Homo sapiens: one gene and its partners. The protein of the gene in region 1 purifies or fractionates together with the protein of each later gene. This does not show direct contact. Each region holds a gene or a part of one and is shown in the gene's direction. Other genes may lie near its edges.

Region 1 (4,172 bases):
CTCGACCCGGGAGAACGTGGACAGCCCTTGGCCTCTGGGAGCCCCTCTCAGCCTCCTAGGAGGCCTCCTTGTCCTCTTTGGAGACCCCTTAGCGCCAGGCTCCGTCACCGCCTAGTCCCTTGGTTCTGACCAAGATCCCGAGGAAGAAGGCGATCACTGTGTAGGGCTCTGCCTCCGTCTGGTCACCTTCTTGAGCTCAGGCTGCTCGGTCGGTCTGTGTGTCCCTGTCTCGGGGACTTGGGGGGCCATCCGTGCTGGGGCCTTGGCGGAGAGAACCGTGAGCCTCTAGGAGGTCGTCCTTCCCCCGCTCCCTGGGGCCTTGCCTGTCTCCCCGCCAAGAGACACCCCTCTTCCCTTCGCTCTCCCCAGCTTGAGACGGATGGGTTAGTGCAGCCACGGAGGCTTGCGCGGTGGGAGGGGTTGGGACCAGCCTTCTGCTGCCCTGGGTGCTGGGGATCCCGGGGCTTTCCAGGTGCTCGGCCTCCAAGGTGCGCGGTCCTCAGCTCCACCCGCGGGCGGCTCCTGCGTCCGAGGAGCTAAGAGAAGATCTATTAATTTCTTCACGAATAAATCGATGCTCTTGTCAGGGAGGCGATCGATGTCAGCCCTGCCCTGCCTTGCCCTATCCTGCCCCGGGGCCGGCGCTGGCTGGCCGGGGTCAGGGACTGAAGCTGAGACCTGAGGCGTTGCTCACTGGGGGCTGCAGATCGCACCCCCAGGCACCCAGCGCGGGCGGGGAGCTCGCGCCTTTGCGCGCGGGCTTCTCGCGCCACCCTGTGGCTTCTCTTGGAGGCGCGGTCTTGGCTCTCCGGACTCCCTTCGGCCGGATTAGGCGACCCCTTCCCTTTCTCTGCCCCGTCTGTGTCTTCCTCCCCAGGTTCTGCGATTGATCCTTTGGTAGTCCTTTTCGTTTTCTTCCTAGAGTTCGGAGAATGTTCTACCTAACTTACTCCAAGTGACATGCTCACTCCCCTAGGCACGCGCGCCGCGAGGATGGAGCGCTGAGCCTGGGGCTGGCTAGGATGACCTGGACAGCAACCTTTCCTCAACGCAGTCATCTTCCCTCCTCCCCAAATGTAAAAATGCAGCTGCTTTAAGCTGAGAGAAATAACGTATCAGCTTCCCACCTCCGGCCTCAGCAGACACCTCCGAGGCGTTCTGCTGCGGCCCCTCAGCGTCTGCCGGAGCTGAGGCGGATCCTCGGGGAGAAGGCTGACGCTGGGGGCCCCTAACAGGGGAGGGGGCAGAGGGGGGGGCGTCAGAGAGTAGGAAGCGGGTGGAGAAGAGGGGCAAGGCGGGGCCGGGCGGGGGCCGCTGGCTCCGCCCTTTCCTGGCGGCTGGGTCTTTAACACCGCCCAGCGCACATGTCGGGGGAGGCCTGGCAGCTGCAGCTGGGAGCGCACAGACGGCTGCCCCGCCTGAGCGAGGCGGGCGCCGCCGCGATGCTGCGAGGCGGACGGCGCGGGCAGCTTGGCTGGCACAGCTGGGCTGCGGGGCCGGGCAGCCTGCTGGCTTGGCTGATACTGGCATCTGCGGGCGCCGCACCCTGCCCCGATGCCTGCTGCCCCCACGGCTCCTCGGGACTGCGATGCACCCGGGATGGGGCCCTGGATAGCCTCCACCACCTGCCCGGCGCAGAGAACCTGACTGAGCTGTGAGTGTCCGGCGGGCGGTGGGGGGGCGCGGGGACAGGCAGGCATTGCAGTGCCCCGAGGGCGCGGACTCGCTGCTTGTTTGCTGGTCAGGCAGGACGAGCACGGCGGAAGGCTGGCACCACGCAGCCTTCGGCGCTGCCCGGGCGTTCCTCCGCAGCCGCCGCTGCCCTAGCAAGCTTTATGGTCAGTGCCTGGATGTCCCCTAGTGTTCAGGGCAGCTGGGCCGCCGGCTTCAGGGAGATCGAAGGGGGAAATCTCCGTGGACCAGGTCTGAGAGAGCCTAGCCGTCTAGAAGGCGCTTTCTGGAGCTCAGCCAGAAGCCCCTGCTCTGTCCTACAGAGAAGGATGGTTACCAGCAGAGAAGTCCCCAGTTTGTCACCCTTACTGCCTTTTTCCTTTTCTAGGGGCAAGCCAGCCCCCGCCCACTTTCTTGTTATGAGGAGGCAACCCTAGCTTTTCTTCTGGAATTGGGGATTGAGCTGGCTGGCATTGGTGGGAGGCGGTGAGGAGCTGAGTGGTTGAGCTCTCCTCTTTCCATTTTTACCATTCCTTCCCCCAGAACCCGTTGATTTGGATCTGGGAAATGGGACCCCCTCCTGGATTTTCTCTCCCCACTCCCATCTCCCTCTCCAACCTTGTCTCTCTACCTGGGGCGGGGAGTCAGGGCCCTTGCTGAGAGACCCTCCTCCCTTTGGTACACGAAGCTGGGAGGAATCTTCAGCATTCTGCAGGACTCTGACATTCTGCAGGAATTGGTTACAAAATACTCAAGTACTTTTTAGCAGCTGGTGAAACCTATGGGAGTATGCGGTAATGACTGGCCTGGAGGTACTCAGGCATCATATGGTGATGGCTGGAAAATACTTGAATATTACATATGGCTATCATGGCCAGCAAGACATCTAGAAGAGGGGAGAACTGCTAGAAAATCCTCCTCCTGTGGCCTGGGGTTTCGAGGGTGGACAAGGAACCTTGGCCTTGTGCTGTGATGGGCTGGAAGGTATCCGAGGTGAGGATCATCACTGTCTGGAAGTTACTTGAGCAGCTTGCAGTAATTGGCACTGAGTTCCTTGGGTATCTCATGGTAATTAACGGGAAGGCACTCAATCTCTCTCTCTAATAGCTCTAGGGAGACCAGGAGTAGAGGAGATGGCCTTGTCTTGGTCTAGGCCTAGGTCTCTGCATGATGGGAGGGGGCATGAGAGACAGGTTGCCAGTCCTAGTCCAGTTCTCTCATCACCCTGGGCCTTCAGATTGGGGTCCAGACTCCTGAGTGCTCCCCATCAGGGCTCGTGTTTCCCAACTCTTTCCAAGCCCCAAGTGGGTCCAGCAGGGTAGGGATGGGAGTGGTAGGGGGAGTGGACAGGCCAGAACTGGGGACTAGCAAGCATGTAGGGTGGTGAGCTGAGATGTCCCCCTGGGTGGGGCTGCAGCCTGACATCCCCCTCCCCACTGCCTGCACAGCCCCCTCCCTCCTCACTCACCCGCAGAGCTAACGAGGAGATAATGGACTCGAATAGACAGATTGATTATGAATCCAAACGAATGAGGCAGCTTTGAGGCAGCTTTGAGCACGCTGGCCTGACAGCTCCCACACACCCTGCCAGCCCACTGCATTCTCACCCCCTCCCTGGGTCCCTACAGCTTGAAACCCTCTGGGCAGGGGCTGGGGGGTGGGTAGAATAGGGACTTGGCCTCCCTCGGAGTCAGTGGAGGTTACTTTATAGGCCTCTACTAAGTCCACAGGGAAACTTAGGACCTGATCCTGGCTGTCCTGGTGGGGCCAAGGCTGGGAAGGGAGGAAAGGAGGAAGGGAGGGGTCACTTAGGCTGGTCCTGGTTCCTATAAGTTAGGGAAAGTTAGAGGGTAGAGGGGGAGAGTTCTGAGAACCGTCAGTGAGTCAGGGGCCCCTGGCATGTGTATTGTTGGGGTGGGGGGGGCACACTAACATGTCACTACAGGGCAGCCGAGTTCTCAGGAACTCCCTGGTATGTCGGATCCAGCAGCTAGGCAGGCCCCAGGGCGTCAGCTGTCCCCTAGCCCCGAATGCCTACTCATTCTTCTTTCTTTCTTGTCTATCTCGCTTTCTGTAGCTCTCTGTCCTTATCTGTCTGTCTCCCTCCCCTTATCTGTCTTCCTTCTTGCCTGTCACTATCTCTCTGACCTCTTCCTGTCAGTTTCTCTTTCAGTGTCTCTGTTTCACTCTCTCTTTGTTTTTCTGCCCGTCTGCCCCCACCCTCCTCGTTGAGCCTTTCCATCTTTCTGTCTCTCTCTCTCTCTCTCTTGCTGTGTAAGTCAGCCAGTCTGTGCCTCTTCTCCCCTCCTCGACACTCTGACTGCCTCCTCTCATTGCTCCTCTCCTCTTTCCTGGGTCCCTCCTTGGGGTCCCTAACTGATAGCCTGTAAGACTCTTGCTTGATCTGCTGAAAAGATGGTAGGGGAGGTTTCGGTGGAGTAGGGGTTGCTGCTTGGGTGTGAAGAGGGGCCAGAGGCTATGGGGGTGCAGAGATGTTTGTG
Region 2 (3,526 bases), on another chromosome or scaffold:
TGGACCCCAGAGGGCACAATCCCAGGGCAGAAAGGCTGTGTTTCTAGTGAGTTTCTGGAAACTGACTCAGGGCAGCAGGAATCCCAAGTACAAACCCTCAGTTCTTAACACTCCTGCTCTCCATGTGCCCTGACCTCCTCTCTGTTCCCGTCTTGCCAGTTCTAAAGGAGTGGAAATCGCTTTGCTCTAAAGAGTTGGGCTGGAAGCGGGAGGGGCTGTGAGCACCTGACTGAGGTCATTGGACGTCATGGAAAGATAGGAGGTGACAGGGACAGGGCAGGACGGGAGGCTGCCCCTGACCCACATGGACCTGGTTTCCAGGCCAGCCGCATGGGAGTGGAGGCAGTCATCGCCTTGCTAGAGGCCACCCCGGACACCCCAGCTTGCGTCGTGTCACTGAACGGGAACCACGCCGTGCGCCTGCCGCTGATGGAGTGCGTGCAGATGGTGAGTGGGCAGCCCATGGCCAAGGGCAGGGCGGAGACGGCTGGGACAGAAGCTGCTTGTCAGGCCAGCCTGGGCACCTTGGGTGTCTCGTCGGTGCACGATGCATTACACGGCCTTTCTGAGAAGGAGGTGAGCTGCCCGTGGGGAGGGAGAAGGCTTATGTTCTCTCCCACACCTGCAGAGCCTGCGCCGTCTTCGCTCTTTGGTTTTCTAAGTTACCATCCATCTGTGTGGCACATAGTCGTAACCTCCCCTGAGTGGGGGTCTAGAGCATCGGGATCCTCAACAGTCGAGGATCCAGGTGGCCCCAGTGCACCAGGTGCTGCAGAAGGACAGAGTGCAGGGAGGCAGCCGAGAGAGAGAGATCCGTGGACAGACTGCAGGGAGGCGGGCGTGAGAGAGACCCATGGGGCAGAGGGGGCAGGGAGGCAGGGAGGCGGGCGTGAGAGAGATCTACAGGGTGGTATTTTGTAGGGGAAGGTGGGACCTTCCCAAACTTCTCCAGTTTCAGCCATTTCCTGTCCTCCTATCCCCAAGGACATTCAGGTCTGTGATGGGACACAGGGAAAGCTCTGGTCACCCGAAGATACACCCACCCTTCTTGGGCCAGGGAACTGTCTGCCTGCAAATGAACAAAGGGAAAAGCAGTTCCAGCTTTTCAGGCATTGGTTCAGTAGTGGAGGTGGCTGTGGAGTTAGCTGCATTTGAAGTTATTTAATTAATTAATTTATTTATTTAGAGACGGAGTCTCACTGTTGCCCAGGCTAGAGTGCAGTGGCGTGATCTTGGCTCACTGCAAGCTCCGCCTCCTGGGTTCACGCCATTCTCCTGCCTCAGCCTTCCGAGTAGCTGGGACTACAGGTGCCCACCACCACGCCTGGCTAATTTTTTTTTTTTTTTTTTTTTTTTGTATTTTTAGTAGAGGTGGGGTTTCACCGTGTTAGCCAGGATGGTCTGGATCTCCTGACCTTGTGATCCATCCACCTCGGCCTCCCAAAGTGCTGGGATTACAGGCATGAGCCACCACGCCCAGCTGTTGTTTTATTTTTCAGAGTTCATTCATGATTCGTGACTCCTGTTTTGTTGCCTCTTAACACACACAAAGAAGTCGTGAAGCAATCAAGTCAGGGACTTGTTGAAAGTCACCTTGTAAACATAATTTCCAAAAGCCCAAGGGAGAAAATAGTATTTGTGTGTATGTGTGTGAGTGTGTGCGCAGGCTTGTGTCTCTGTGTGTATGTATGTATATGTGTGTGCATGTGTATCTCTGTATATGCATATACATGCAGGTTTATGCATATATTTATGCATGTGTGTGCATGTTTGTGAGGTAGTTTGGGTCTGCATGTATGTGTATGTTTATATGCATGAGTATGCATGTTTGTGGTAGTATGTCTGCATGTATGTGTGTGCATGTTTGTGTGCATGCATGTTTGTACGTGTGTGCATGTTTTTGTGAGGTAGTGTGTGTGCATGTTAGTGTGTGTGCATGTGTGTATATGCATGTGTACATTTGAGTGTGAGGTAGTATGTTTCTGCATGTTAGTGTGTGCATGTATGTTTATATGCATGTGTATATATGTGTGTGAGGTAATGCATCTGCATGTGTGTGCATGTATGCTTATATGCATGTGTGAGCATGTTTGAGATAGTGTGTGCATGTCTGTGTGTGCATGTGTTTATATGGATGTGTGTGTATGTTTGTGAGAGGTAGTATGTGCCTGCATGTTTGTGTGTGTGTGCAGGTATGTTTCTATGCAGATGTGTGCATGTTGGCATGAGTGTGAGGTAGCGTGTGTCTGCATGTTTGTGTGTGCAGGTATGCTTATGTGCATATGTGTGTATGTTGGAGTGTGAGGTAGTGTGTGTCTGCACGTTAGTGTGTGCCTGTGTGCATGTGAGAGGCAGTAGGCTTAAAAGGCTCAGAGCACTGAACGACATGCGGTACGTGTATTTTGAGCCTGTGTCTCATGTCTCTGCTTGTCTAGAGACGACCGTGGTAGGTGTCACTTGCCCTGACCTTGAAACCACCCTTGTGTGGCTTTGTTTTTAAAGCTGAGGGACCACTACTGTGCACCTGCTGTTTGTCAGGCGTCTTCCTGAGGGTCTGACATGCTTGAATAACCTTAGAGATAGCTGGAAGTAGGAGTATTTTTCTCATCTTACAGATGAGGAAATTGAAGTTCAGAGCGAGAAAGAACTTGACCAAGATCCTGACGTTGCCCAGGGCTGCCTGGCGTGCATCAGTCCCAGCCCCGTGTCCCAGGGCCTCCATCCGGGCCCCTCTGCTCCCCCGCCCGCTGTGACCTCGCTCCCATCCCACATCCCCCAGTGAGCTGGTGTGTTCTGTTTTGTTTTTCCCCACCATAATCAAATTGAGAATTCCTTAGAACCATGCCTGAGAGATTTCATTTCCTCTGGCTTTGTTCTCTTGGAGTTAAATCTTCACAGTGTTGTGTCCACAAACAGCAGGTGACACCTTCTCTTTTTCCTCAGAAGCCTCCTGAGCTAAGCAGTCCCAGGGCTCTGACCTCACAGCCGGGCCGTGTGGGGCTGGCTGCCAACCAGCATTAGGACACACTTGGCGGCCGGTCGTCTAGACCATTAACCCTGGGGCTGCTGGCTGCCCGGGTCAGACTGGAGGGGGCTGGTGGGAAGGACCGAGCCAGTCTCTACCTACCCCATCCATGATGCACCAGGTCCTGACACATTCTTTCTTCTTTTCATCATTGTTTTAAAAGACTCAGGATGTGCAGAAGGCGATGGACGAGAGGAGATTTCAAGATGCGGTTCGACTCCGAGGGAGGTGAGGTGCTTTGGAGAAAGCTCTGCCCTGTCAGGAACACACACCCCTCAGGCCCAGCCACTGCAAACGTGCTTAGGGGTTGTGCTTATTCCATGTCACTGTGAAAAATCAGAAAGTCAGGCAGTACTCACAGCACCGCTCTTGCAGTAGCAGGCCCTGGTGACTGGTTAGAGAGAAATCATTTTCTAAATTTGCCATTGGTCCTTTTTGGTAAGGTGATGGTTGTTTAGGAGCTAATGAGATTAAGGCACAAGGTGACTTGTGGCCCTTTAA
Region 3 (3,526 bases), about 40 Mb from region 1:
TTTCAGGCTACAGAATGGGCTGGGCGCTCCCTTTTTTATCTCTTATGCAAAGAATTTTAAGGAGTCTTAGGCTGACTTTTTAATATGGGAAGCTGGTAAAGGTCAGTGTTCTTATGTGAGCACTAAAGATATTTAAATTTGATATGTAATAATGTCTTTGCAAAGCAAAGAATATAAACAGTATAAAAGTACTAGCATTTAGATGTATTGTATCATTTAATCCTTAAAAACATGAAATGAGGTTGGCACTATTCTTTATCTCCACGCTGTGGAAGAGGAAATTGAAATGTAGAAGTTAGTAACTTGCCTAAGGATACACTGCTGGTAAGTGGTAAAGCCCAGGATTTTAACTCAAGGCTGTCTGATTGAGAATGCGGACTCATAAGCACAATATTGCACTCTAAGTTAATAATGTAAAGTTAGTTTCATTCTTTCAGTAGGGAAGATGGAAGGCTGCAGAATAGGGATTTTGATAGCAAAAATCTCCTCATTAACCCCAAAAGGAAGTGGCACTGGCAGGGCCATTCTGAAGCCTACCGGTAGCTTCAGTATTGTTCTTAATGCTCTTGGATGGAGAGAATGTATCTTGAGCCAATGTATTAATAGTAGATTGCTTTGCTTATGTAGTAGGCAATATATGGGTATACATTTTCCTGACTATTATCTTAATGACTATTCCAAATTATGACTACCTTAAAAACTACCAAAATCCCCTGCTCCAGAATTTTCAGTTTCAGATGAGGTTCATAATTCATGGCCTCACTTTTCCCACATTCTCCTACAGGTTGGACGTGATAAGTATGAGCCTGCAGCTGTTTCAGAACAAGGTGATAAAAAGGGCAAAAAGGGCAAAAAAGACAGGGACATGGATGAACTGAAGAAAGAAGTTTCTATGGTAAGTACTAGGAGGAATATTGTATTCCATCCTTATTAAAAATCCATGATTTTTAATCCCCCAGGCCTCACTGTATTCTTCAAAGAACTGCTATATATTAAAAGAGATCATAGCAGCTGTACAGATCTCATCTAGTCGTAGAGGTTAATGTTGAACATATACTTTTTAAAAGCTGTTAGAGGGTAGGAAAAGTTATTCAGTCACTCTGGCATAACCAGAGATAACAGAAGGAACTTAGGTTGATACCATGAGTCTTTGCTTTTCTCTGTATTATATCAAACATTGGGAAATTCAGCCTCTCCAGGCGATGGAAGCTTCCATAGACTTAACCTGTCTAGAATCGACCTGGTCATCAGAGAAGGCAGATAAGGTTTTACTAGATCCCTGAGAGCTGCTGGGTTTCTCTGAAGTGTTATGGCAAATAGTAATGGGCCACGGTCACTCAGCTTTAGCCATTCTCCAGTGAAGAGCTGTCAATGATAACTGTGTGGTTGCAAAGCCACAAAGCGATGGTGAAAATTGTACCAACTTATGCACTGAAGAAAACATCTGCACTTTGTTTAATAAGCTTAATGATAGTAATGAATAATGCTATTTTTTCTGTCATTTTTTTATACTACACTGTTTAACTATTTTCTTTGTTTCTGTTTTCCCTTAGGATGATCATAAACTTAGCCTTGATGAACTTCATCGTAAATATGGAACAGACTTGAGCCGGGTATGTTCTAGTTTGAAAGCTGTTGTACAAAATCCTAGTTTTCCGTATTATATTTTCCCCTGTATTACATACAGGTCTAACCTCAGGGGCTCTAGTAAGAAAATGACAGACACCATCTGCGTATCTACCATGTGACATGCACAGAATTTGGGCATTTATATGCTACCGTTTCTTTTCCCTGAAACTTTTTGAAAGTAGATGTTATTTTCTTTTCCCTATTTTATAGCAGTTGAGAGCCAGTAAGTGGGAACACCAGGACTTGCAGTTGGCTTCAAAGCCATGCTTATGCCTTGACCTTTTGATGATAAATTTTCCCTTTATTTTTCTACATTTGTTAAATAGAGTTGAATCTTTCACCTAGTTGAATCTTCAACAATTCCCATTTTTGCACTTTTCCCAGCTAGCCCATTGCAGTGTGTTATGGTTATACTATCATTTGTTTAGTTATTCTATCATTTAGTTGGAAATTGTTTTGTACAAAAATTAAAGAAACCTTTTCATAAAATAGGCGTTATGTATCCTTGTTATGTAGAGGATTTTGATATTAAATGTGTAACAAATGTTATAAAAGTAAATAGTCTAGGGATGTCTTATTTCCAGATAATCACTGAAATGTCTGGGAATAACTTGAATAGCAAGCCAATATGTAGCATTTTTTCAGTAAGGCATCAAGAGACATGGGTACTGTGGTATTCTGATATATATTGGTTTTTGTCCACAGTTCCTGGTTCATAACTCCCATAGCCCTTATTACAGTCGTTTGTTATAATGTTGGGTGTGTTAGACCTCAGTGGCAGGCTTCAAGAAACAGGATCTCTCTCCTGCCCTCCTTTTCACCTGTCGCAAGGCAGGACTCTAATCTTGTTCCACTTTTCTGATTTTCCAGGTAGATAGTGTTGGAATTGAATTGGAGGAAACCTTGGTGGTGGGGAGAAACCGCCACACCTTTGCTCACAGAAGTCATCTTCTGTGTTGATTGTTGGGGTGTAAGAGTAGAGAAGAGGCCGGGTGCGGTGGCTCATGCCTGTAATCTCAGCACTTTGGGAGGCTGAGACTGGTGGATCACCTGAGGTCAGGAGTTCGACACCAGCCTGACCAACATGGAGAAACCCCGTCTCTACTAAAAATACAAAATTAGCCTGGCATGGTGGTGCATGCCTGTAATCCCAGCTACTCGGGAGGCTGAGGCAGGAGAACTGCTTAAACCTGGGAGGTGGAGGTTGCAGTGAGCCAAGGTTGTGCCATTGCACTCCAGCCTGGACAACAAGAGTGAAACTCCATCTCAAAAAAAAAAAAAAAAAAAAAAAAAAAAAAAGGAGAGAAGAACAAGGTTGAGAGCGTTTTTCTTGACACAAGCACTTTAAGCTCCAAGAGGAGGCCTCGAGTCAGCTCAGAACAACATGCCAACAGTGACTCTGTGCTTACTTTGTGCCAGGCAGTCTCTAGCCACTTCACATCTCACTTAAGTTTTTATTAGAGTCTTAATGAAGTGTGCTCTCTCCGACCTATGCCCATTACTCAAATGCTGCGGGTCTATTTCTTTACTTATAAAATGAGGTTAATAATGCCTAAAAAAGGATTGTCATGAGAATTAAACAAGTTAATTAAAGCACTGAATTCAGTTCCTGGCATGTAGATAGCACTCAAATGTTTGGTAACATGAGCACAAAACACAGATAAATAGATACTTTAGACAAAAATATTTTATTTTTTTTTTGACTTGTTATTTTGAGAGTATAAAAGTGATCATATTTTCCTCTCTTAATGAGAGCTTATATGTAATTGCCTGCTGTCAGTGAATCTTGGGTTTAAGGCCCATTAGAAAAATAGCAGGCTTTAGTAGAGTGGTTTTTTCCAGTGAGTACTTTTCAGTCAACAGGTTTATTGGGAGGTGGCTAAAATGCACATGGAGG
Region 4 (3,526 bases), on another chromosome or scaffold:
AGAGTCTTGGTCTGTTGCCCAGGCTGGAGTGCAGTGGCGGGATCTCGGCTCACTGCAAGCTCCGCCTCCTGGGTTCATGCCATTCTCCTGCCTCAGCCTCCTGAGTAGCTGGGACTACAGGCGGCCACCACCACGCCCAGCTAATTTTTTGTGTTTTTAGTAGAGACAGGGTTTCACCGTGTTAGCCAGGATGGTCTTGATCTCCTGACCTTGTGATCCTCCCGCCTTGGCCTCCCAAAGTGCTGGGATTACAGGCGTGAGCCACCACGCCTGGCCTCAGTAAATGTTTTGATAAGAGGATACATTAAGAATCATTCACATTGACTGATGGTCTTTTATTTGGTAATGTATATATCTGATTAGCTTATGCAGAGTCCCGGCAGTAACTTATTAGCATCCCTCTTCTGTCCATTGGTTTTAATAACCACAGTTGTCTTTGTAATGTAATTCATAAGTTTGTTTTGTTTGGCATGTGTGTGTTTGGAAAGCAATTCTGCCTACTGTCAGTTTTCTGAGGTTTACATAGGCAAAAGCTTTGTCTTGAGAGGTGGTCTTTTGGGTTTCTTTTCTCTCTTGCCTACTCCAGAGCCAGAATCCTGAGTTTGTGACAGAATCCTCTGTTTGTGACATCCCAGCCCCCCCACTGTAGCTCACGGTGATGTCACAAATGAAGAATTATGATCCTGGCAGGGGAAACAGATGAACTTGGAAGAAACAAAAGATCTTCTTTGCCTGCAGCTGTCCCTAGTCATGGGGAGGTTGGGGGGTGGGAAGTGAAGCACTGACGATCCCCATGATTAGCAGAACCAGCTCTGCATAAAACGGGGTCCTTGTGAAGGCAACAGGGTGTGGCTGCTGACATTTTGACTGACTTTTTCCTGCCCCCTCATTCCTTTTCCATCTGGGGGGGCAGGACAGTTAGCACAACTCTACCTACATAATGCTTAAGTTTTCATATTGTCCTTAGAACTTTCAGGACATGCCGAGTGCGGTGGCTCATGGCTGTAATCCCAGCACTTTGGGAGGCCGAGGTGGGCGGATCACCTGAGGTCGGGAGTTAGAGACCAGCCTGACCAACATGGAGAAACCCTGTCTTTACTAAAAATACAAAAAATTAGCCAGGCCTGGTGGCGCATGTCTGTAATCCCAGCTACTCAGAGGGCAAAGGCAGGAGAATTGCTTGAACCCGGGAGGCAGAGGTTGCAGTGAGCCAAGATCATGCCATTGCACTGCAGCCTGGGCAACAAGAACGAAACTCCATCTCAAAAAAAACAAAAAACAAAAAAACAGAAAACTTTCAGGACAGTAAACCTGTGCCACTGAAGGAGAGGCATTCCTGTCACTGCTGTGTGACACTGCAGAAAGTCTTCTCAGTGAAACAGCTGGTAATGTGGTAGTGTTTACTGACTTGCTCATATTTTAAATTTCAGTTTTGGAATAGGTGCTATTCATGGTTCAAAAACTAGAAAGTGTTGCCAGATGCAGTGGCTTATGCTTGTAATCCCAGCACTTTGGGAGGCCAAGGCAGGAGGATCACTTGAGGCGAGGAGTTCGAGACCAACCTGGGCAACTTATTGAGACCCTGTCTCTACAGATAATTTAAAATTTTAGCTGAGTGTGGTGACGTGTGCCTGCAGTCCCAACTACTCATGAGGCTGAGGCAGGAGAATCACTGGAGTCTGGGAAGTCGAGGCTGCAGTGAGCCATGATTGTGCCACTGATACTCCAGCCTGAACAGCAGAGCAAGACCCCATCTCAAAAACAAAACAAACAAAAGTTAGAAAGTATGAAAAATATTCAGTGATGAGTGTCCCCTCAAACTTGTCCTCTCTCCGCCCAGTTCTCACTCCCCTAAGCTAACCACTGTTCTTATGTCTTCTATTTTCTTCCTTAGTTTTGTTGTACTTATATAAAATAAAGATCCTTGATTTTCTCCCTTTATTTAGCGTGAAAGGTAGTATGCTTTATGGCAGGTCTGCACCTTTAAAAAAAAATCACTGAGTAGCTCTTGGAAGTCTTTCCATATTAGTACATGAAGAGCTTCTTCATTCTATTTTAGAACTATATAGTATTCCATTATATGAATGTCCATGTTAACTAACCAGTCTCCTGTGGATGGAATTTGAATTTTTCTGCTTGTAAGTTTTCAGAGTTTATCTCTTCCTGACCCCCATGGCCAAATTCTTAGAGGGAATAGGTGTCCCTTAACTCCAGATTTGTCCTTCGGTTCATTTATTCTCGGCGTGAATGTGATTCAGCAAGGCTCTCCCAGGAATAAATAGCAGCTAAACCAAAACTGAAAGCTCAGAGGACAAACTAGTAAAAAGAGAAAAACAGAATATATGGAGATGCTTTATGAGGCTGAAAGAGTAAATTAATCCCCACCTTTTTGTGTGTGTGATTGCTCCTTGGCTTGTGGTTTGTATAGTGGCATGTTGGGAATAGTAATCTGATGTAGCCTATTTAGAGCCATTTAAAATAACTATTTTAAGGCTGGGTGTGGTGGCTCACGCCTGTAATCCTAGCACTTCGGGAGGCTGAGGAGGACGGATCACGAGGATCAAGACCATCATGGCTAACATGGTGAAACCCTGTGTTTACTAAAAATACAAAAAAAAATTAGCTTGGGCGTGGTGGCGGGCGCCTGTAGTCCCAGCTACTCGGGAGGCTGAGGCAGGAGAATGGCGTGAACCCAGGAGGCAGAGGTGGCAGTGAGCCAAGATCCTGCCACTGCACTCCAGCCTGGGTGACAGAGTGAGACTCCATCTCAAAAAAAAAAAAAAAAGTGATAATATTGCCTATTTCATAAAATTCTTGTGAGGATTAAATGGGTTCATATATGAAAGTACCCAGTAAATGTTTACTGTCCTCATTATCATCTGGAGCCTTTGCTGTCCTCATTTCAGTGCTTTTATTTAATGAATTAGGTATGTTTTTAAACTTTGATATTACTTAGAAGTGGACCCAAAGACCTCATTGAGTTTTGAGTCTGTTACCTGTGACTAAACTAAAGTGAAGATGTTTCTGGAGTCCCTGATGAAGAGCCTTATTTGTTTTCTTCTTCCCTACAGGTTGTTTTCTGCATGGACCGTGCCCTAGAATTTGCCCCTGCCTGCCATCGCTTCAAAATCCTCAAGGCAGAATGTTTAGCAATGCTGGGTCGTTATCCAGAAGCACAGTCTGTGGCTAGGTATGCAGTCAGGCTAGCTGGACATTAAAATGCCAGATACCATTGGACTGATGGTGTCCGGCAGCTTCACCACAGGATATGGTCCCCAGAGTAGGCCAGCTAGGGCTGATCAGACCCTCTTGGGACTTAAAGTCAAAGATTAGACCAGCTTTGAAAACCCGTAGGGTATACAGGAGTATAGTAGTATAGCAGGTACTTGAGCTATATATGAAAGAACAGATTGTGTTTTTGTGGTTTTGTTTGTTTGTTTAAGGTAGTCCTTTTCCTTCTACTCCACTGGTTGGCACACTTTCTGCAAAGGGCCAGATTTTAGCCTTTGCAGGCCACAGGGTCTCT

The links. The genes of interacting proteins can lie anywhere in the genome.
Region 2: the proteins of NTRK1 (region 1) and PFKP purify together in Homo sapiens (affinity purification with mass spectrometry; 2 studies listed by BioGRID and IntAct, with this or other methods). This does not show direct contact.
Region 3: the proteins of NTRK1 (region 1) and ATP1A1 purify together in Homo sapiens (affinity purification with mass spectrometry; 2 studies listed by BioGRID and IntAct, with this or other methods). This does not show direct contact.
Region 4: the proteins of NTRK1 (region 1) and DNAJC7 purify together in Homo sapiens (affinity purification with mass spectrometry; 2 studies listed by BioGRID and IntAct, with this or other methods). This does not show direct contact.

The regions. Positions count from the first base shown.
Region 1 is NC_000001.11:156,859,493-156,863,664, forward strand, and holds the start of NTRK1 (high affinity nerve growth factor receptor isoform 2 precursor), read left to right. Parts: upstream 1-1,372; 5' UTR 1,373-1,442; coding exon 1,443-1,654; intron 1,655-4,172. UniProt on the Homo sapiens protein: Receptor tyrosine kinase involved in the development and the maturation of the central and peripheral nervous systems through regulation of proliferation, differentiation and survival of sympathetic and nervous neurons.
Region 2 is NC_000010.11:3,109,034-3,112,559, forward strand, and holds part of PFKP (ATP-dependent 6-phosphofructokinase, platelet type), read left to right. Parts: intron 1-321; coding exon 322-447; intron 448-3,188; coding exon 3,189-3,253; intron 3,254-3,526. UniProt on the Homo sapiens protein: Catalyzes the phosphorylation of D-fructose 6-phosphate to fructose 1,6-bisphosphate by ATP, the first committing step of glycolysis.
Region 3 is NC_000001.11:116,383,230-116,386,755, forward strand, and holds part of ATP1A1 (sodium/potassium-transporting ATPase subunit alpha-1), read left to right. Parts: intron 1-140; exon of another isoform or gene 141-324; intron 325-784; coding exon 785-895; intron 896-1,553; coding exon 1,554-1,613; intron 1,614-3,526. UniProt on the Homo sapiens protein: This is the catalytic component of the active enzyme, which catalyzes the hydrolysis of ATP coupled with the exchange of sodium and potassium ions across the plasma membrane.
Region 4 is NC_000017.11:41,989,928-41,993,453, reverse strand, and holds part of DNAJC7 (dnaJ homolog subfamily C member 7), read left to right. Parts: intron 1-3,071; coding exon 3,072-3,190; intron 3,191-3,526. UniProt on the Homo sapiens protein: Acts as a co-chaperone regulating the molecular chaperones HSP70 and HSP90 in folding of steroid receptors, such as the glucocorticoid receptor and the progesterone receptor.